Regions from separate parts of the Homo sapiens genome. Here region 1 is linked to region 2. The links come from fine-mapping of genetic effects on gene expression. A gene starts in region 2. The other region holds a variant in brackets. All regions are shown on one strand. Distances are from middle to middle.

Region 1 (10,334 bases), 21 kb before region 2:
CCCACACTCCACACCCCACACCCCACACTCCCACAGCCCACACTCCCACACCCCACACTCTCACACCCCACACTCCCACACCGCACACTCCCACACCCCACACTCCACACCCCGCACTCCACACCCCACACTCCACACCCCACACCCCACACTCCCACAGCCCACACTCCCACACCCCACACTCCCACACCCCACACTCCCACACCCCACACTCCCACACCCCACACTCCCACAGCCCACACTCTCACACCCCACACTCTCACAGTCCACACTCTCACACCCCACACTCCCACACCCCACACTCTCACACCCCACACTCCCACACCCCCACACTCTCACACCCCACACTCTCACACCCCACACTCTCACACTCCACACTCTCACACCGCCGCTGCTCCTCTCAGAAAGTGCCTGGCGGCATTGGCTCTGGGTCTGGGGCCGGTCTCTTCATAACCGCAGCCCCCAGAAGAAATGAAGACTCATCCCTGGAGCCAACACACCTTAAAGCCGTAAACACTGGACCGAGACCACTTGCATTTGAACCCCAGCTCTACCGCGGGTGAGCTGTGTGACCTTGACTGAGCGTCTTAACATCTCCCCACCCCGGTTTCCACATTTTTGAAAGGGTGACAACAATAATACCCACCTCATGGGGTGGTTTCAAAGATTAATTTAGTTAATATTTATCAATCACGCAGCAACATGCCTGGTTCGGGGTAAGCGCTCTATCTGCGTTTGTGAAACGAGTTAAAGGAAATGGCGCTATCATAGCACAGTCAGGCATTTGATTCTTTCCTTCTGATCTTTGATGTTCCATGTATACAACCAGGAATTTTTACATGCATAATTGCCTGGGAATTTCAACTGCATATGGTAGCACTTTCTGCTTTCAAACCATTTCTGAGGTGGTCTGTAGGCCCCCAGTTCTGCTAGATGCTTTCACAAGTAAACACTGAGAAGAATGCCTGATCCCTGCCCTCAGAGAGGTTGGTGGATTTGGGAAGACAAGAAGAATCCACATGGTTCAGGAGGAAAACCTGTGGAGAAGCCTGTAATGAGGAGCAAAACTGTGTGCAGCCGAGCGGAGGGGCGGGCATGGTTGAAGTGGGGCCAGGCAGCAGCCATGGTGGGGGTGACAAGAACCACAGCCGCTTCCTGCTGGGGCGTCCTGTGGGCTTCACGAATGCCACCACCTAGATGAGGACACGAAGGCTCAGAAAGGTCACACAAGACACACGGCTCACAGTGGGGAGGTGGGGCCTTCTGCCCATCACCTGCTCGGCAGCCCTGGTCCTTAAAGAACGCTCCGGTGAGGGGATCCGCATGGCCCGGCTGAGCTGGAGTGTGGACTCCTGGAGACGGTCCAACCGGACGGGGAATGTGTCAGGAGGAAGGAGCTGCTGGGAGGCCAGGAGCTGCTGGCAGTTCCCACCCTGCCCGGGTAGCACAGGCCCCCACAGGCTGTGGGCGGGAGATGCTGAGGGTTTTTTGAGCCAAGGGGCTCTGGAGGAAGGCAGAGGCCCAGAGCCACTGGCACCTCTGAGCAGGGGTGACTGGGGCGAGGACTGAGTCTGGGGTCCTGTAACCAGTCGAGTCGTACTGGGCGAGCCGAGGGGACCGTGCCTCAGCACACAGGTGGAGGGTTCGGGGGCAGCCTGTGGCTCTCCCAGGGACCGGCTGCGTCTCCCCTTCTAGCTCTGCCCTCTGCTGTGTGTCTCGCAAACACCACCCCGTGGACTGTGAAAAAAAGATTTCAGAAACTGGGAGAATTGCTGTCAGGCTTCCAAGCCAGCAGCACAGAAAAGGCAGAAAGACACCAGGACGGTTCTCTCGAACTCAGTTTAAATATGGAGGGATTTTGTCATTTTTTTAAACAAGAAAATCTTGTTTGATATTCTCTTTCTAATTGATTCTTCATATTTTCCTTTAAAAAATATTTCAAGCAGCTGTTTCCTGATAGGAGAGAAGCAGGGAACTGACACCCACAAATTCCTCCGGGCGGTGGTGCTGGGGCCGGGGCAGCGGGGCAGGTGACCCCAGGCGCAGGACGCTCACCTATGCTGCCTCAGCAAGTCGGGTGGGCTTGAATCCCCCTTCCAGGGCCGCAGCCTGCAGAGCCACCTCCTCACAAGACCACAAGCAGGCCTGGGCAGGCACCAGACGGGGAGACGGGAATGCTGGCCCTGAGCTCAGCCCTTGACCCGGTGGTGGGGCCACAGGTGCCATGTAACGATGATGGGTACCACTTGGGGATGAAGGCGGGGGCCTGTGCCAACTGACTTCTGACCCACAGGAGCCCTCTCCACAGCGTGAGTGGGGACGGGACCAGGTGGCAGCACCTCCCGGGATGGGCTCTGGTCCTGGCACCTCCCTGGGCGAGTGCTGGGCCTGCTTCCTCCCCTGCCCAGTGGAGAAGAGAGCAGCCGCCCTGGGGGAGCTGTTCTGGGGAGAGGGCAAAAAAGGGACAGGGAAGGCTTTGAAGGGGATGCTGGTGCAGTCCCTCAGGCGCCCCACCTCTCAGGAAGATGGGCCCCGCTGGGGGGCCCGTGGTGTGGAGGCCACGCTGCTGCCCGGGCTGAGGGACCCGAACCTGCAGGCCCCAGAAAATAAAAGGGTGGAGTCACCCACCTCCAGCCTGGGGCTGCACCAGCCCAATCCCCAGCCCCAGCAGGGGCTGCCCACCTCCAACTTCCCCACCCCATGGCCCTCCTCCTGCTGTCGTCTCCCCATCATAGTTCCTGCACCACACGTCTCTGGAACCGTATAAAGTTATGCGTCTGAGTGGCTGACAGCAGCCTCCAGGCTAAACTTTTGATCCGCTGTGTGCTGACATCTTCAAACCAGAGCGGGTCTCTCCCTCTCTGTTCCTGGGTTGGCGGTGGCAGGTCTCCTGCAGTATATGGCATGCAAATAAGCAGGTCTGCGCTGTCACTCCCTAGCTGCCAGACCCCTGCCTGGTGCCTGGAGGTGGCTGTCCCTCCAGCCACCTCCAGCAGCGAGGCCAGAGCCCTAGGCTGCTCCCCACCCCTTTGTTTCCTTCTGGGAGGTGCTGGTGACCGAGGCTCAGGAGGGCACCTGCCCCTAGGAAGGGGCTCCCCCAGGGATCCCCGCAGTAGAGAGGGGGCCACTGAGGGGTGGGTGGGCAGTGGCTGGGGGCTGCCTGCATGGACTGAGCTTCCTCCCAGGCTCAACCCCCACCCCCCATCAAATCCACCTGACTCGCAGAGGCTGTTAGAACTGGGGGGCTGTGAATCTGGCCACCTGGCCTGGTCCCATAGCTAAGGTTCAGTGGGAGTCTCAGCCCCAGCTCCTGGCATGGGGTAGCTCAGGAAAGGGGCTGGAGCTGACAGGTGTGATGAGGGTGAGGTGGGTGAGGTGGGTTTGGGGCCAAGGGGAGCCTGGGAAACCAGGTGAGAGGTATGGGAGGCTGCAGTGGGGCCAGGAATCCTGGGTCTCATCCTTGTTCCCATGCCAGCAGCACAGGCTGACACTTTGTCACAGATCTACTGGGTCCCCACCACTTAGCCCCTCTGTCCAGCCTCCGCAGCCCCTGGGAGTAAAGCCCTTTAATCTGAAGACTCAAAAACCCATCTCTTCCTGGAGCCAGAGGCCCAAGTGGCTGCCAGTGAGAGTCTGCTGCCAGCCCTCCCTGCTGGGCTCACCCACGGCTCCCGCCAGGCGCACAACAGCATCTGCGGACTCCTGCCCTGGCTCCTGGGTCACTTCTGTCTCTGGGAGAGGCTTTGGGCTTGAACCCTGGCAGCTTCATTGGACAGCGGTCCCAGCCTGCATGCCAGGTCCTGTCAGTGTCCTGGAGGGTCCTGTACTGGTCCTGGTCTCTAACCCTGTGCGAGGCCATTTGGGCTTACTTTTCTCTCTCCGAGATCTGCTCCTGGTTGCAGCGTGGTGACCAGTGAAATCTTGCATTTCTCTGCTGTGCCCCCAATCCCTCCAAAGAACATGGCCTCCTGGGATGCTCTCTGCCCTCCAGGCCCTCTGCCCGGCTCCCTCCTCACCCACCATGCCAGGCGCACGACACCCCAACACCGCAAAGACTTTCAGTCAAAGTATCCTCCCCTCCCTGCTCCTAACACCCTTGCTCTCCCTTGGAGGTCCAGAACAAAGAGGTCATTTCTTCTGGAAGGACCTCTTGTTCCCATGGCTACAAAATCCTCACTATTTACTCCCTTCTCTGTGGGCACGACCAGAGACAGCACTGCT[C/A]TTGTATTTCTTATGATGAAGATCAATGGGATGTCCTAGTGGTCTTCTGGGCATCCACATGATTGCATCATGGGTTGCAAGCCCCCAACAGAGAAAGTCTGTGCACCTGGACCCGCTCTTCCTTCTATTATGCACATAACCTGCCATGTTACAGGTTAGGGGAAGCACATAAGAAGGTGTGTGCTGTGGGCTGAATCCCCTGAATTCATATGCTGGATCCTGATCCCTGGGACCTCAGAATGTGACTGTATGTGAAGCTGGGGTCTTCACAGAGGTCATGAAGGTTAAATGAGGTCACATGGGAGGCCCTAGTGTAATATAGCTGGTATGCTTATATGAAGGGGGGATTAGGACACAGACACACACAGAGGGATGCCCTGTGAGGAGACTGCTGACTGCAAGCCAAGGCAGGGGCGGGGGGAGGGGAGGTCGAGAGAAACCAGTCCCTGCTGACACCTTGGCCTTGGACTTCCAGCCTCCAGAGTTGTGAGGAAGGAAAGCTCTTGTTTAAGCCACCCATGGTATTAATATTTGCTAGGGCAGCCCCCAAAAACTCAGACAGTGCATGTGTGGTGAACCAGAGATGGCTCTCAATTCTTCACCGCCTGTTACAGATTGGTGCCTGTCTGACCTGTGCCATGGGGTTCTGCAGGGTCCCCGCTGTGGTGGACGGAGTACACATTCCTGCCCTGGGACTTGGCCTTGGCCAGGTGACTGCTGCCAATGGAACATGAACAGAAGTGACAATACCCCATCTAAGCAGAGACACTAAGTATGATCCACGGCCTGGTTTGCTCTCTGGCATCTCTGCCATCCACTCAGGAGAGTGTTCCCAGACCCCACTGATCCCAGAATCAGAAACATGTGGAACAGACTTGACCAACAGCCTGACGCAGGGCTGCTCATTGCCCAGAGACCCCAAAGCAAGAAAAACACACGTTTGCTGCAGGAAGCCATTTCCATGTTGGGGCCATTTGTTATGCAGCCTTGTCACAGCAGTGGCTGACTGATACCTTAGCAACCTCATTTCCTGTCCCACACCTGCCTCATTCCTTCTGCTTTCTACACAGGTGGCCACCGTTATTAGTTTAAAAAGGCGTTTGCTTGGTGAGGAAGAAGAGGGAGAATCAAGCAAAGGCATTTGGACTTTATTCCACAGGCAACGTAGATCAGTGGAAGGTTGATGAAAGGGAAGTTCCATGATGAAATCACCGGGGAATTATTCTATCAGTGCTCCCCAGGCTGCTGGAGAAATGAGGGAGGAAAAACAGACACAGAAAAACCTGGTCATGGTTTTTATTATTTCTCTTAAATTCAGCTCCACCCCATCTCTTCAAAGAATTTTCCTCTTTGGTTTTAATAATGTGCTTAAGCCACAAGTTGAACAGTCTTCCATCCTCCAAGCTGTCTTCTGGCTGAGGGAGGCTGCTCTGGGCTTGGTGGGCGGTGGAGGAACGGGTAGCGGTTGGGGACTGTGTCGCAGCTGGCCCAGCCACTCTCCCTTTCTTGGGGTGTACTAATCTGACTCCCAGAATGGTGCCGACTCTTTCCAAGGCTTCACATTCCTCCTCCTCTAGCTCGGGGGAAAGTGAGTCCTGATTTAGACTTCTGTAGTCAGGCAAAGAATTTCTGAATGCAGGGGGCTACTCCAGGCTGGATGAAAAACCCACTTTCATGCCAGCTGGGTTTCTGACAGAAATGCCACAAGCTGGCACCTGGCAGTGTTACTGGGCTGGCAAAGTCAGAAAACTTTGAATTTGTGCAGCTCACACGGTGCAGCCTTCAGCATTTTACAGACGTGCCCATGTGACTTGCATCTTTGAAAGGGGATGGTGTGGGAAGTCATGTTAGATCACCTCTGATATGATTAGGACCTAATGGTGTTATTTGAAGTTCCAGCTCAAGTCCAGTCAGGTCACAGTCACTGCCACAGATCAGGAAATCGTGCTGACCTGGATTCCTCGGTTCCCCCTTGTCTGTTTAATTGACGGCCACTTTCTCATCAAGGCCATCAGCAGCCAGCACACAGGCTTTTTAAAAATTAGGCCTCAAGAAACAACAATAACAAAGTAAAATCTGTCCTGATTTTTAGGCTTAACCTTTGAAAATGTTCTCTCTCTAAAGAGAAGAGGTGCCTTCAGTCCAGTGAAGAGCGCTGGGCTGCTACCCGAAGCATCTGCACGGGAAGGAAACGAGATGAGTCGGTGACTCGTTGCCACAGGGGCACGCATGGTACACGCAGCACAGCACCAGGAGCTGGAGCAGGCTGCACAGGGCGAAAGTCAACAGGCACACGGTGGGCTTGAGGGGCTTCTGCAGAGGGAGTGGGGGACAGGAGTGACGCCTGGGTGCCAGTCCTGAAGGCACCTCTTCTCTTACATGCTTGGACTGTGTGACCGTGACAAATCCCTCTCCCACTGTGAGGTTCATCCAGAAAATGGGGTGACCTCACAGCCTCCCCGGAGTTCTGTGAGCGTCAAGGGGACACCATGTGGAAACCCCTAGCACCGTGGCTGTTTGTGGGTGCAGAATCGTGTGCACGAAGCGAACAGAGGCTTCCACGTGGCCTTCATCTCTGCTTCTTTCGCAAAGCAAACCTTGGCCCCGAGATGACAGCTGCTTTGTGTTTTACACCCTGGGGCTGAGTCTGCCAACTGTCCCATGGTGTCCAGACTCCCCTAACTCCTTTCAGCAATGGAACCTGGCCAACGAGTGTCAGCGGGGCTGCAGCTGGGGTGGCAGGGGGGTGTGCAGAGACGCCCTCTCCTCTTGACTCGTCCTCATGGAGGAGGCTGCTTGCCATCCGCTCTCATTTCCCACTCCCTCCACCTGCAGCACGGATGTGGGGCTGTTGCCCCTCAGTCACCCAGGTGAGGGTGATGCCCCAGGATGGCAGGGCAATGGGACGGGGGAGCCCGGCCCCGGGCACCGTGGGAATGCTGTGGACTCTAGGCTGCTGGTGGGAGGGAGTTTTCTAGGGCTGCCTCCAGGGTGCTGGCCACATCCCAGCATCGCACAGGGTTGGTCCTTTTCCCCTCATCCTCATAACACCCAAATGAGGCAAGCACTATTACCTCTGTAAGCGAGGAGACGGAGGCGCACAGAGGTTCACCAGCTATCTAGAAGCACCAGAGCTGGGGCTGGAGCCAGGCTGACTGCCCCGGAGTGTGAGCTTGTGGCCGTGATCAAGCCTGGCTGGCATCTATCACAGTCAGGCACTGTGTGCGGCTCTAGGCACACAAAGGCCAGGTCTGCAGGGGGATGCCAGTCAGAGGGGAAGGGAGACAGGTTGCCCTGAGGACAGCAACGTGGTCAGTGCGTCAGTGCTAGGGCAGGCGGGCGGTGATCTCAGCGGGAGGGACAGGCATCTCCGAGGCAGGGGACGGGTCTGCCAGTGGTCCCAGGTGCTGTGCTTCCTCCCGCACTCCTGCCTTGAGGTTTGTGGCCCCACCTGTCACCTGTCCTTCCTCAGCCTTTTCTGGTCGCCAGAACGCCTCCTTGCGTAGTAGTAGTTACAACTACTGAACCCTAATAGTTACTACTACTGAACACTAATAGTTACAGGAAAATTGTCAGGTGTTAAGTAGAAGTGTAAAATTGAGACTGTTTCCCTGGCATAAAAAGAATTGAACACCAGAGTTGTGGAGAGAAAGACATCTTGGTCATGGAGAAAAAGTTCTGTTTATCTCTTCTCGGAAAACTGCGGAACTCTCGGATGCCACCTTAGAGAAGCCACACAGCTCAAGAGATGTGCTGGGTCTCCACGCAGCAGGGGAAGCAGGAGCAGAGGCAGGGCTGGAGAACAGGAGGAGGAACGTGGCAAGGGTGTGGCTGGCAGCTGGCGAGGCTGCAGTCCATGACGTGGGGGGATTCGGTGGCAGGGGTAGCCTGCAGGGGGCGGCAGTGAGCGGAGCGCACCCTGGGTGGTGAGTGGAGGCCTCAGCTCCAGCCTGGCTCCGGCTTGCCACGTGAACATGGAGGGCTGGCCCCTCGCCTCCCACCCTTTTCCCTCCTGGTGTCTTTGGACGGTTCAGGGCTTCCTAACTTCTCGAAGACTCAGTGTCTTCTTCTGTGGGGGCAGCCTTCACAAAGTGCCACAGACCCGGGGGCTGAAAACAGTGGAAATGTATCCTCCCACAGCTCTGCAGGCTGGACGGCAGAGACCCAGGGGTCAGCAGGCCTGGCTGCTTCTGGAGATTTCGAGGGAGGGTCTGTCCCAGGCCCTCTCTTAGCTGCTGGTGCCACTGGTAACTCTTGGCGTCACGTGGCTTATGGATAAATTGCTCCCGTCTCCGCCTCCGTCTCCACTTGGTCTCCCCCAGGTGTCTCTGTGTCTCCTCTGGTCTTAGAAGTGAGAGGTGACAGAGTGCTGGCAGTCCTCACAGCCCTCGCTCGCTCTCGGCGCCTCCTCTGCCTGGGCTCCCACTTTGGCGGCACTTGAGGAGCCCTTCAGCTCGCCGCTGCACTGTGGGAGCCCCTTCCTGGGCTGGCCAAGGCCGGAGCCGGCCCCCTCAGCTTGCCGGGAGGTGTGGAGGGAGAGGCGCGGGCGGGAACCAGGGCTGCGCGTGGTGCTTGCGGGCCAGCGTGACTTCCGGGTGGGCGTGGGCTCGGCGGACTCCGCACTTGGAGTGGCTGGCCAGCCCCACCGGCCCCAGGCAGTGAGGGGCTTAGCACCTGGGCCAGCAGCTGCTGTGCTCAATTTCTCGCCGAGCCTTAGCGGCCTTCCCGCAGGGCAGGGCTTGGGACCTGCAGCCTGCCATGCCTGAACCTCTCCCCGCACCCCCCGTCCCCTGCCTCCCCGCCCCCCCCGCCCCCCGCCCCCCGCCTCCGTGGGCTCCTGTGCAGCCCGAGCCTCCCCAACGAACACTGCCCCCTGCTCCATGGCGCCCAGTCCCATCGACCACCCAAGGGCTGAGGAGTGCAGGCGCACAGCGCGGGACTGGTAGGCAGCTCCACCTGCAGCCCCAGTGCGAGATCCACTGGGTGAAGCCAGCTGGGCTCCTGAGTCTGGTGGAAACTCGGAGAACCTTTGTGTCTATCTCAGGGATTGTAAACGCACCAATCAGCGCCCTGTCAAAACAGACCACTCGGCTCTACCAATCAGCAGTATGTGGGTGGGGCCAGATAAGAGAATAAAGGCAGGCTGCCCGAGCCAGCAGTTGCCACCCGCTCCAGTCCCCTTCCAGGCTGTGGAAACTTTGTTCTTTCTCTCTTTGCAATAAATCTTGCTGCTGCTCACTCTTTGGGTCCACACTGCCTTTATGAGCTGTAACACTCACCACGAAGGTCTGCAGCTTCACTCCTGAAGCCAGCGAGACCACGAGCCCACCGGGAGGAACGAACAACTCCAGACGCTCTGCCTTAAGAGCTGTAACACTCACGCGAAGGTCTGCAGCTTCACTCCTGAGCCAGCGAGACCACAAACCCACCAGAAGGAACAAACTCCGGACACGCCGCCTTTAAGAACTGTAACACTCACCGCGAGGGTCCGCGGCTTCATTCTTGAAGTCAGTGAGACCAATAACCCACCAATTCGGACACAGAAAGACACAGTCATGTTGGAGTAGCCCCTGCCCACTCCAGCCTGACCTCAGCCTAACTCATTCCATCAGCAAGGACGCTGCTTCTGAATAAGGCCACGCCCTGAGGTTCTGGGGTGAGGACTTCCACATAGCATTTAGGGACACACAATTCAGCTTGTAACACTCGGTTTCCTCAACTTGGAGGGAAACACTGTTACCCACCCAATAGGGTTTTTGAAAGGATTAAATCATTAATGCATAGAAAGTTCTTTGCACTAGAGCTTGGCCCATCTTAAGAGCCACATCAACATGACCTATTATTACTGATATCTTGGGAAGAGTTTTGTAACATTCTGTGCCATGTTAAAGGTGAGGTTTGGGCTTGGGAGCTGGATGGTCTGAGGCCATGGAGACCCAGGTTTTCTGCTTACATCTGGACTAAGGCCTTGTGAGACCTCAAGTGTTTAAAAAGCAAACCCTCTAAGTCTGTGTTCGCTTCCCTTTGCCACGGGGGCACAATTGCTGCTCAAGAACCCATTCCCTGATAACACAGCAGGAGACCAAGCAGGCTGTGCGGGGCCACGGTCACTA
Region 2 (10,334 bases):
GGCTGCAGAGGGAGGGGCTCGCAGCCAGTTGTTCTAGCTGCTTTCCGTCTGCAGCACCACCCCTCTGATGGCAGCATCTGGATCCCCGCACATGACAGCTGGAATCCTAAATGTTCTGGGTTAGTGGTAACTTGTCTGGATTTTAACCTACATCTCTTCCTTCCTCATTGCAACAAGACTTCTCTTCTTGTCCCTGTCTATGGAGTTGAGGGTGGGAAGGATGCTTTGATTCAATGCTACCCTATGTCATGTCTTTTTGGAATACAACTTCCAGGCAAAGGGGAGAGCTTCCTCATCCCCATGGACAGAGAGGTGACCAGGGTTGCATTCACACCCGTTTGTTAAGCACCTGCTGCCTGCAGGCCTGTGAAACACCCTGTTGTCCTGGAGATACAGAGACAAGAGGCCTAGCCTCTAGGATTTGACATTGGGGACAGGCCCAGAAACACAACATGGCAGCACACTGTGGCTAGGGTGGAGGCAGACCTCGGTGCTGGCTGCTGCAGGGACACGGAGGAGGGACGCCCTTCTCAGCCTGGAGCTGGGAGGAGGCTGGGGAGCAGTGCCAGGAAAGGTGTCCCTGGGGATGAGAGCTTCTGTTTCTATTCCAGATTCCCAGAGTCACAGCGCAGAGGGGAGCCTTTGTGCTCATGGCTTTTTGACACTTTCAAAAAACAAACAAGAAAAAAACGGCATGGTCTCTGGAAGAAGTGGAGGAGTGACTCATGGGTGTCTCCCTTCTGCCTGTCTCTAGGCACCTGGGGCCACCAGAGTGCTTCTGCCCTGGGCTTTGAGGGAAGCTGATCACCTGGGTCTTCCTGGCAGGAACTAGCAAGTAGGGGCAGTTTTCAGGGGGTGGAGACCCCAAAGATAACATTGGTCTCAACCTTGATGCTGTTTAGAACCACCCAAAGAGCCAAAGCTCCCAGGTGGTGAGAGACAGGACTAGCTGGATTTCCCAGGCTGACTAAGAATCCCTAAGCCTAGCTGGGAAGGTGACCGCATCCACCGCTAAACACGGGGCTTGCAACTTAGCTCACAACCGACCAATCAGGTAGTAAAGAGAGCTCACCAAAATGCTAATTAGGCAAAAGCAGGAGGTAAAGAAATAGCCAATCATCTATTGCCTGAGAGCACAGCGGGAGGGACAGTGATCCGGATATAAACCCAGGCATTCGAGCCGGCAATGGCTACCCTCTTTGGGTCCCCTCCGTTTGTATGGGAGCTCTGTTTTCACTCTATTAAATCTTGCAACTGCCCACTCTTCTGGTCCGTGTTTGTTATGGCTGGAGCTGAGCTTTCACTCGCCGTCCACCACTGCTGTTTGCCGCCGTCGCAGACCCGCCGCCGACTTCCATCCCTCCGGATCCAGCAGGGTGTCCACTGCGCTTCTGATCCAGCGAGGCGCCCATTGCCGCTCCCGATCGGGCTAAAGGCTCACCATTGTTCCTGCACGGCTAAGTGCCCGGGTTCATCCTAATCGAGCTGAACACTAGTCGCTGGGTTCCGCGGTTCTCTTCTGTGACCCACGGCTTCTAATAGAGCTATGACACTCACCACATGGCCCAAGGGTTCATTCCTTGGAATCCGTGAAGCCAAGAACCCCAGGTCAGAGAGCAAGAGGCTTGCTGCCATCTTGGAAGCCACCCGCCACCATCTTGGGAGCTCTGGGAGCAAGGACCCCCGCCCCCAACAGTGACACTCAGCCTTGCTCTTAGAACTCACGTACCCTGTATCTTGTTTGATCTTCAGCCCATTGGGTACTTAGGATACCGAATGGCCTTCCCATCTCACAGAGGAGAAAGCCGATTCCTGGAGGCCAAGTGAATTCCCAAACACCGTAGACAGAGCAGGAGCCAGGCGTGGGGTCTGAGGTTTGCAGGTCCAGCACCTGCCCCTTCTCCACTCCGAGTCAGGGGACACAACCTGAAGTCCTGGCTGTGTGCTGCCTGGCATGTAGACCCAGTGGAGATGCTGCCAAAATGAGCAATTGAGGGTTCCCCGGAGCCCCTCTCTTCTGAGCCCCAAATCTCCTCCAGCTATTGTCCCCATGCGCCCGTCGTTGGTGCTGCTGTGCTGCAGCCCTGGCTGGACCTGGATTCTGGTTCAGGGCGGGTGCAGGGACAGGGTGCTCCAGGGTGTGAGGGCCCAGGAGGGCGTCAGGGGTACACCAAGCAGTGGGGAGAGCAGCAATAGAGCATCCCCACTTTTCTCCAAGTGCTCTCCTTCAGGAGCCGGGATGGGAAGGGCAGACGCGCACCATGTGAGAGCCACATGGCGAAGGCAGAGGTGGCTTTGGGATGCTGCACCTCTGAGCCCAGGGAGCAAGCGTTCCTGGAGACAGCAGAGGCCAACAGGGCGGGAAGGGCCCTGCCCACGCCTGGACTTTGGACTCCGGTCCTGTGGGGGAACACATTCCTGTTGTGTAGGCCCCCCGGTTTGTGGCACTTCGCTAAGGCAATGCCGGGAAGCTGATGCAGAGGGGTAAAGTGACAATCAGGCAGTGATTCCCCAACAGGTGAGCAGGACTGGGGAGGCTGGGGAGGCTGGGGAGATGACCCAGTCCACCTCCAGCACCCACCGCTGCTGAGAAGCCAGGCAGGAGGCAGTGGAGGGGAGGCGTTGAGAAGCGTGGAGACAAGCAAGTCTGGACCCTGCTCCGCAGACCAGACACCCCCCAGAGACACCCCCCAGAGAAGGCGGGCGTGGGAAAAGAGGCTAGGCTGGAACTACACCTGGGTGCCCCTCCTGGGAAGCAGGGGGTTTGTGAACACCTCCAAGGGGCCTCTCTGAAGCTGTGCTGTGGCTCTCGGCCTCCCCAGCCCCTGCTGGTGTGAAGAACACAGAAAGGGGTTGGAATAATCTAGCAGCTGCTTGCTGTCCCAGGCTGGCCAGCCCCCACAAAGTGTTCCCATCTGGCCCCAGCCTGCACAGGCAGCACTAGCAGCCCCCCGTGAGTAATTTGCAGGCTCGGATGGATGGGCAGAGCCCAACCAACTTCAGCCAGTGGAGGGAAGGCCTTGGCCTTTGCAGGTAGGGGAGACAGCTCAAGGCCAAAGATTCCCATCAAATCCTGAAACGCCTCTGCCCAGCCTGGCCACCCGAGACCGCACCCAGCCAGGAGCACTCCCCAGAGAGCCCACACACGCTTCCAGGTCTTCCTCCCCAGCCTGCCAACTCAGTCTCAGCATCACTGGTTTCATTTCACTTAAAAAAAATTTTGTTTCAATTTAGCTTCATTTGGTCATTTTAAAGAATAAGTTGTCTGTGCCCCCAGGTAGGGTTATTTTCTATGTTGCCCATCCTCTGCATAAGGCGTCACTGTCCCTGGGAATATACAGGGATTCTATGCCTGGCCTCGGAAACTGAAATGAAATAAATTTGCACCATGAGAGAGTAGGTCCAACTCTGCACAAATTAAAACAAAACACAACAAAAAATGTTTCAGCCAGAAGTAACATTCGACATGGTCTACCCCCATCAGCTCCTTTTACAGGTGAGGAAGTGGAGGCCTAAAAAGCTGGGAAGACTTGCTCAAGGTTATGCTCAAGGTTACATCCACCTCTTCCTGCAGGGTAGAGGCTGGAGGGTCTCAGAAAGGCTCCCTCCCTCCCTTCCTGCTTCACAGCTGGGGACTGGAGGCCCAGATCCAGACCCAGAAGCTGGAAAGAAATCCCAGGTTGTGAGGCCCGTCCTCCCACTCAGCCCCCAACTCTAGGCCTGGGACCCTCCACAGCCCTCCAGGCACCAGGGGACCAATCGGGATGGAACCAGCCCCTCAAGACCCAGGGCCACTACCTAGCAAGTCCCTCCTTATCTGGGTAGCCTATACCCCCCACCTTGCCTTCCCCAGACCCTGTGCTAGGGACCCCTGCCTCAGGAAGTGAGCCCTACTGAACAGATGGGGGGCGGCATTTGTGGCTCGCGGCCTCTTTCTCTGTCCCTCCCTCCCGGCCTGCCCCCTGCCCTTCGAAGAAATTGAATTCCAAGGAGGAAGAGGGGAGAAAGAACACCCAAACCCCTGCCTTCTCACTGCATAAATACCTAAATCCCGGGTCCTCCAGAGCCTGCCTGGAGCCTGCCAGCCGCTGCCTGCGGTCCTGCCCACAGCCTGAGGTCCCGGCCTGCACCTCCTCATAAGCCCACACTGGCGGTGCCATGCCATGGGCTCCCCTGGGCTCCCTCTGCCGCCCAGCCTGCCCCGCACACTCCACTCGCGCCGCCCGCCCTTTGCTGCAGGACGGGGCCAGCCAGGGCAACTCTCCGCAGCCCAGAGCTCTCGTCCCTTGAATCCTGCCGGTGGAGCAGGGGGCAAGGGGGAGCCAGGCACGCCCAGCCCCGGACCCGCAAGCAGGGACCCTCGGGGCGGCGGTCCGCACAGGGCAGGGGCTGCTGGAGACCCGCGGCCCCCACCCCCGACACTCACCGCGCGGTGCCCAGCGCGCGCCAGGGCTCCCATCAAGTCCTCTCGGAGCCCGCAGCAGGCTCCCACTTCTGTTTTTCTCTGACAGCCATGCAGGCAGCAGGCCTTCAGCCAGGCTCCCCGCCGCGCTTCCACGCACGCACACTCACAGTCACGCTCGTGCACACTCGCACGCACACGCACGCTCACGCTCATGCACACTCACACTCACATTCGTGTACATGTACACATTCACACCCGCATGCACACTCAAACTCACGCTCACGCACACTCACGCTCGTGCACGCGCACGCATACACACGCCCGCGCTCACACGGACACGAGAACTCGCCCCGCTGCGCGCCTGGCTCCCGGGACGCCTGGAGCTGGGGAGCGAGGGCCCCGGACGCCTGTAGCCGCCAGGGGAGGCCGGAGGGGCAGACGGGTGCAGAGAGCAGCCGGAAAGGCAGTGCCCGGCCACCAAGAGGCCGATTACTTGAGGGGCCTGAGGTGTGGAGCCCAGGCCGAAGACCCTGGGTGCGAGAAGGCAGCGGCCAGGAGGCCGCCCTAGAGCCTCGGGAGCGGGCGGGGGAAGGGGGATGTCCACGGAGACCAGAGTTGGTGGCTCTGACCGAGGAGGGCCTCGCGCTCCCCACGCCACTTGGCAGGGCTGGGGACACGCGCCCTCTCCCCCCTCTCCCTGGGGCCGCGCAGGGCTGTACCCGGGCTCTGCCCAGATCCCCTCGGAGCGGAAGATGCAAGTTGGCTTTTGTCTGACCCGGTCAGACAGAGCCGTTCTGTGGGATAAAGGCTTAACGCTCCGTGAACACGCAGAAAAAGCTCCGCGCTGGCCCTCTGACAATCCCATTGTCTCGGGCCTGAGCCCGGCGGTTTGGTCTGAAAGCGCCAAGTTCATGACATTTCAAAGAGCAATGATACTGGGAGAGGGGGGTGGGCAGGGGAGGGAGGGGTGTGCAGGAGAAATACATTCCTAAAATACGAAGTAACAGTATCTGACTCCCTCGCCAGCGCGTTCCTCAGCTCAGCCCCCTGCCCCACCCTCCACGAACCCATTCAGACCGAATCCCCTTCTCCAGCCCCGTGTGGACCCAGAGCCAGGCTGCAAAAGTCAGGATCACCAGGGACTGCGGTTTGGAAGGTGAAGGTGTGAAAAGATGCCCAAGTAGCTGCGTGGAAGCTTCCTGGAATGTCAGCAGAGTGACAGCAGCCGTTTAGCACAAGCTCCCATTGTCTGCACTGCCCCACAAGATAAGAATTTGCCAAAAAGGACTTTAGGTGCCCACATGAGTTTATTTTAAAGAGCTAGAGTGTTACTGTTTTCTTTCATTTGTATTACTGTTCGTACTATATCCTTTAAAAAAAAAACTATTTTCTGAGCCAGGAAGCAAAGGAGCTTCCATTTTTAGTGTTTAATTTGTTTAATGTGCCTCGGCAAAAGCAAATAATTCCTGAGAGAAAGCAGAATCCTCAGGAAATTGAATGTGTTTTGTCTCCAGCGAAGTTTCCCTTGAGTGATTTCGTTTGCTTTCTGTCTCGCCAAGCAGGCTCTGCACTGGGACCTCCAGCAGGCTGGGGCCAGGCTGGGCAGTCTGCAGCCCCTCTCCCCACCTTAGGTGGTGAGGCTTCTCTGATCCTCAGCCCACTGGCCAGGTAAACTGTGCTCCCGAAGAACAAAACGTAGCCTTGTAGAGTCATTCTAATGCGAGGAGAAAATAGGATTAGGCCAGAGTGTCAGCCAGGTAAGTCGGATTAACAGCAAGGTCCAATACATTTTGGCATTCTTGTGCTATTTTTAATTGTACAAAGGTATATGCTTCCCTTCCCTGGCTTTATTTAAAGAGGCTGTTTGTTTGTGCCCAAGAGGTAAATGATGAGCGATAAGGCTCTATGAGGAATTGGAAATGTATAACCTTGCAAAATGACATTTCGCCCTGGAAAGTGTGACACGCACACACGGGTAGATAAAGGGAGAGTGCGGAGCGTCCCGGGCTTTGTTAACGCTTCTTGCCCCCTGGCGTTGCTTTGATGGAAGGACACCCCACGCCTGGCTGCAGAGGTGTCTGCCAACGGCAGGAGCTCCTTCCCCACAGGCAGCCAGGCAATGACTACAAATCGATTCATTTTAAAAAAATATCCAAAGTCAGGTGTTAAAAAACGTATGAACCAGGATGGTAGGTCATTAAACCGTGGGAGAAAAGAGTTGGCAAAAACCTGCTTATATTATTTTTTAAAATATATATCTGTATTGCATTTTGCCACATGCAAATTTAGTCTAGGTTTGTTAATCAGGATCATGTGAGTGTGTCATAAATTAACATGATTTCTTCGGGGCAAGTCAAGAGAGAATGTATAATTGTTTAAGTTTGCAAATCATTTAGCAATTAACTTGGGGGGCAGAGGGCTGCAGTTCCCGGGTGGCCAAGGACATTCATGAGCCATGTGGAAGTTACTGAGTCGAATTGTAACTGTCCATGGCATTTCTGACCGTCCTTTCCAGGCCAAATGACAGACAGAAAGCCAGAGGGGACAGCACTGAATCCAAATGCTTTTGCATTCTGGGTGAGTGTGAACTGAGGGCACAGAAGCTTGGGGCCAAAGGAGAAGAAAGTTGCATTTGATCAAAGTTCCCCCTTTTGGGCAGAGGGCTGAGAGTGAGGATGACCAAGGGGTTTTGGCTTCCCTTTCAGACTCTGCATATGTGAGGTGGCAGGGCAGGGTTTAGGAATGTCATTTTCCTTAGATAGAGAAGGGTGTTCCCAAAAGAATTGTCCAGGGGTCAGGATTCTGGGAAAGCCATAACAGATGTATGTCTGTGAGGGCTTCCATCAGCTCGTGGAATGTTTTCTTCCTGTTGCAGAAACAGAAAGAGCAGTTTGTTGAATCTGAGAGTCGGTTTTGCCGACCTTGTTTAACTGCTGTCTGTCTGAGAGCTTCTTGCAGAGACGCTGGAGAATTCCTGGGGCGGGGGTTATTTCAAACTCAAGAATCTATCATTCCATTTTGATTAATCTGGTAAAGCAGGGTTCTGTTTCTCTTTTAAATTTTTTCTTCTTTTCCATATTTAACATAGATATGCATGTACATGAGAAGTAATGGACATTCAAAAAGCCAGATCCTGCTGATTCCACATTTCAATGGCTTGGTTTGCCAACTCATGCATGGGTGCCTCTAAACACTAATCAGTAATCCAGTTCATTGCTAAGGCTGCAGAGCTCCAGGATCTCTTATTTTCTCACAGGTGGGAAAAGACCCCCCGACCTTCTTGGTCTAAGCTCTCTTCTGGTTACTTGGTACCCACATGTTTACAAGGTATTTATTTTCATTAGACCTCCGATCGTTCTAAAGGCCTGCAGAGCCCAACCCTTCCTGCCTCCTCCTCTCCCCATCTTTAAGCTATAAAACCTTGGCGGAGTTTTCTGGGCTGTTCTCCAGGTTTTTGTTTTCCCCACTGTCCAGCATGGTACCTGAGATTGAGTGCAGGTGCAGCCGGCAGGACACAGTGGCTCCAGCGCCAGCTTCCGCTCCATCTCTACCCCATCCTTCTCCTCTGACTTATTTTGCTGTAACTCTGCACTTAATCTGATGAGGAAGGGTCCCTAGAATGTAGAATGTTGAACAAAATTCTCCCTAAAACAGGAGGAAGAGCTGGCCGTGGGGAGCGGGTTCTATAGTAGCTGCAAGTTGACCAAGTATGTAGAAAACATCAAAATGTGTCTCCATTCCCTTTCCTTGGGTCTGGGAGGAATGTCCCTGAGCCGTTCTTCCCAGCCCTTTTGTAACTAGCAGATGCATTTGTTAGAGAGGTCCTCTTGTTATCCCTGTTCTCAGCATTGTTCTTTCAGCTAGAAATTCACAGTAAAGGTGAGCCATCCTCCGAGGCCGAGGGGCATAGCTGAAACTCAGCAACAGGAACAGAAGTGAACCTCTCTTCACCATGTGTATTCGTGGGGTGGGGGTGGTGAAGGGGAAAGGAGATAGTGTTTGATTTTGTGAATCCAGGGTGAGGCTACAGGGACCCCAGAAGCCTCCTCTTCAGGCCCTTCAGTCAGCAAAGGCGGCCTCCCATCCCCAAGGCGCAAGCAGCGCAGATACCATCACAGCCGTAGCCCAAGCGCGCGGGCCCTCGGCCACTGTGTGCCTTCCCCGGACGTTGGTCTATGCGGAGCAGCCCTCAAGCCTGACTGATCCGGGTCTGCATCCCGCGGGTCTGGACGCGAGCTGGGCATCCGACCGCACCGCGGCGGGACGGGGAGCGCGGCCGCCTGGAGCTGCTTCTTCTGGGCGCTGGGCGCACGCTGCCGAGCGCGGGGCTGGGGCTTCCGGGGGCCAAGCCGGCTCAAGCCCGCACAGGCTCGCGGCGGGGCTGCCTGGCTGCCGCGTCTTGGATCCGGCCTGGGCCTGAGCTCCTGGACCTGGGGTTTTGTTTTGTTTCGTTTTTGTGGAGGAGAGGGGGTTTGGAGACATGAATTGCACTGGCATGGTGTAGGGGAAATATTTGGAGATAGTTGGCAAGAATTCATCCCCAGGTCCAAGGAGTCCAACTAAGCCCGGTTTTAGGGAAGCCCAGCCAGATGTATCTTGAGACAGAAAAGGACATCGTGCTAGGTCTGTGGGGCGGACGCTGAAGAGTTGCCCCGCTAGGAATTTCCTTCCTTTGCAACCGTGAAGGGCTCGCTGCTGCAGTCCAGTGAGCCGTGGGACTCCAATGCCTGCTTCCCACCGCCAGCCTGTTCAGGGGAAATCAGATCAAATCCACCTGCAATCACAACTCCTTTATCAGCTGGGGGGCCCCAAATCTAAAGGGAGAAATGGGACGCTTTAGGAGCCCACCTAATTTGTGATGAGAAATGGAGAAGGGGAAATTCATATCCAATAATAAACTGCTGTAAAAGTAGGTTTGGAAGAAGAAAAGTGAAAACAGTACATATGTTTGTAAGTATGTGCTCATATTTATTGAATATTTGTCTTCTCTAAGTATAGCTTTATTAGGTGTCATAAAACCCCTGAGTTGAGCAGAGTCCAAAAGCCGTCTTTTGGCCAAGCTCACACACATCAGCTCTCTTCCTGGGTGTCCCCCGTGCATTTTATTTATCTTTCAGTTTATTCAAACTTATTTTGAGCCACATGAAGGCAGTTTTATTTGGCTAGTAGAGATTGTGTTTAATTCATTGAGTATGCATTGTCAAAGTTTAGACGTCAATGCCAGCCTGAATTCCAAATTGGGAAGTTAAATATTTGTTTTTAATTTTCTGGCTCAAAAATGTTAACTAACAGAAATGATTCTTTCTGCTCTAATGTGCTTGCATAAATGGGGTTATTAGAACTTTCCCCTAAAACAACATTTGCTTCCTGTCCAGACACGTTGTGTTTGGAAACTTCACTCCTGGAAGAAATTTTTAATATGTATAAATAAAAAGTAAATGCCTGGCCTTTGAATGTTTTGGTACAGAGGCTTATAGGAGGAGGAAAATGAGAATGCAGCATTCCTATCTCAGTAGCTTGATTACAGACAAATTTAGGTTGTGGTGGAAAAGTATTAAAGGGCTTGCATTACAGAAAATATTGACACCAAAGTCCCCTTAATGGTTGTCCTTTATAAGATATGGAATTTTGTAAAGAATTTCAAGGTTTAATTTGCCAACTCTTTTAGGTTTGTTGTATTATTGTGCACTTAATCTATTTATACATACTTCTTAAATTCCGTGATTTGAAAATGACAGAGAACACAAATGCAAATAACTTCACACATAACCCTCATACTATTGGGAATGGAACCAGGAAAGACTACACCTTCTCTGTAGAGGTGTATTTCCAGTAAATCAAATTGCAGACAGTTTAAAACATGATGCTCAAACTGAGACCTCATATGCGAGTGAAAATGAACTGACTATAGAGATGTGACTCACTATAA

Direction of the effects. Positions count from the first base shown, and alleles are read on the strand shown. Sizes are in standard deviations (SD) of each study's normalised expression.
As copies of A replace C in region 1, the expression in spinal cord of the gene that starts at base 4,666 in region 2 goes up (large effect, 1.0 SD a copy in GTEx).

The links. PIP is the estimated chance that this variant, and not a neighbour inherited with it, causes the effect.
Region 1: its variant is fine-mapped to the expression of LINC03010 in spinal cord (GTEx, PIP above 0.99). The same link has a PIP of 0.9 or more in amygdala, anterior cingulate cortex, caudate, hippocampus, hypothalamus and prefrontal cortex.

Annotation. Positions count from the first base shown.
Region 1 is chr7:155,396,952-155,407,285 of GRCh38, reverse strand. LINC03010 (long intergenic non-protein coding RNA 3010) reads right to left here. Exons shown (of 3, transcript NR_147174.1): 3 at 5,504-6,397. Among named protein-coding and RNA genes, the nearest start is that of LINC03010, 20 kb to the right of the region's middle. The variant C/A (reference allele first, on the strand shown) is at 4,222.
Region 2 is chr7:155,376,408-155,386,741 of GRCh38, reverse strand. It overlaps LINC03010 (long intergenic non-protein coding RNA 3010), which reads right to left and starts at 4,666. Exons shown (of 3, transcript NR_147174.1): 1 at 4,427-4,666. RefSeq lists enhancers at 3,797-4,608, 4,609-5,420, 8,156-8,656.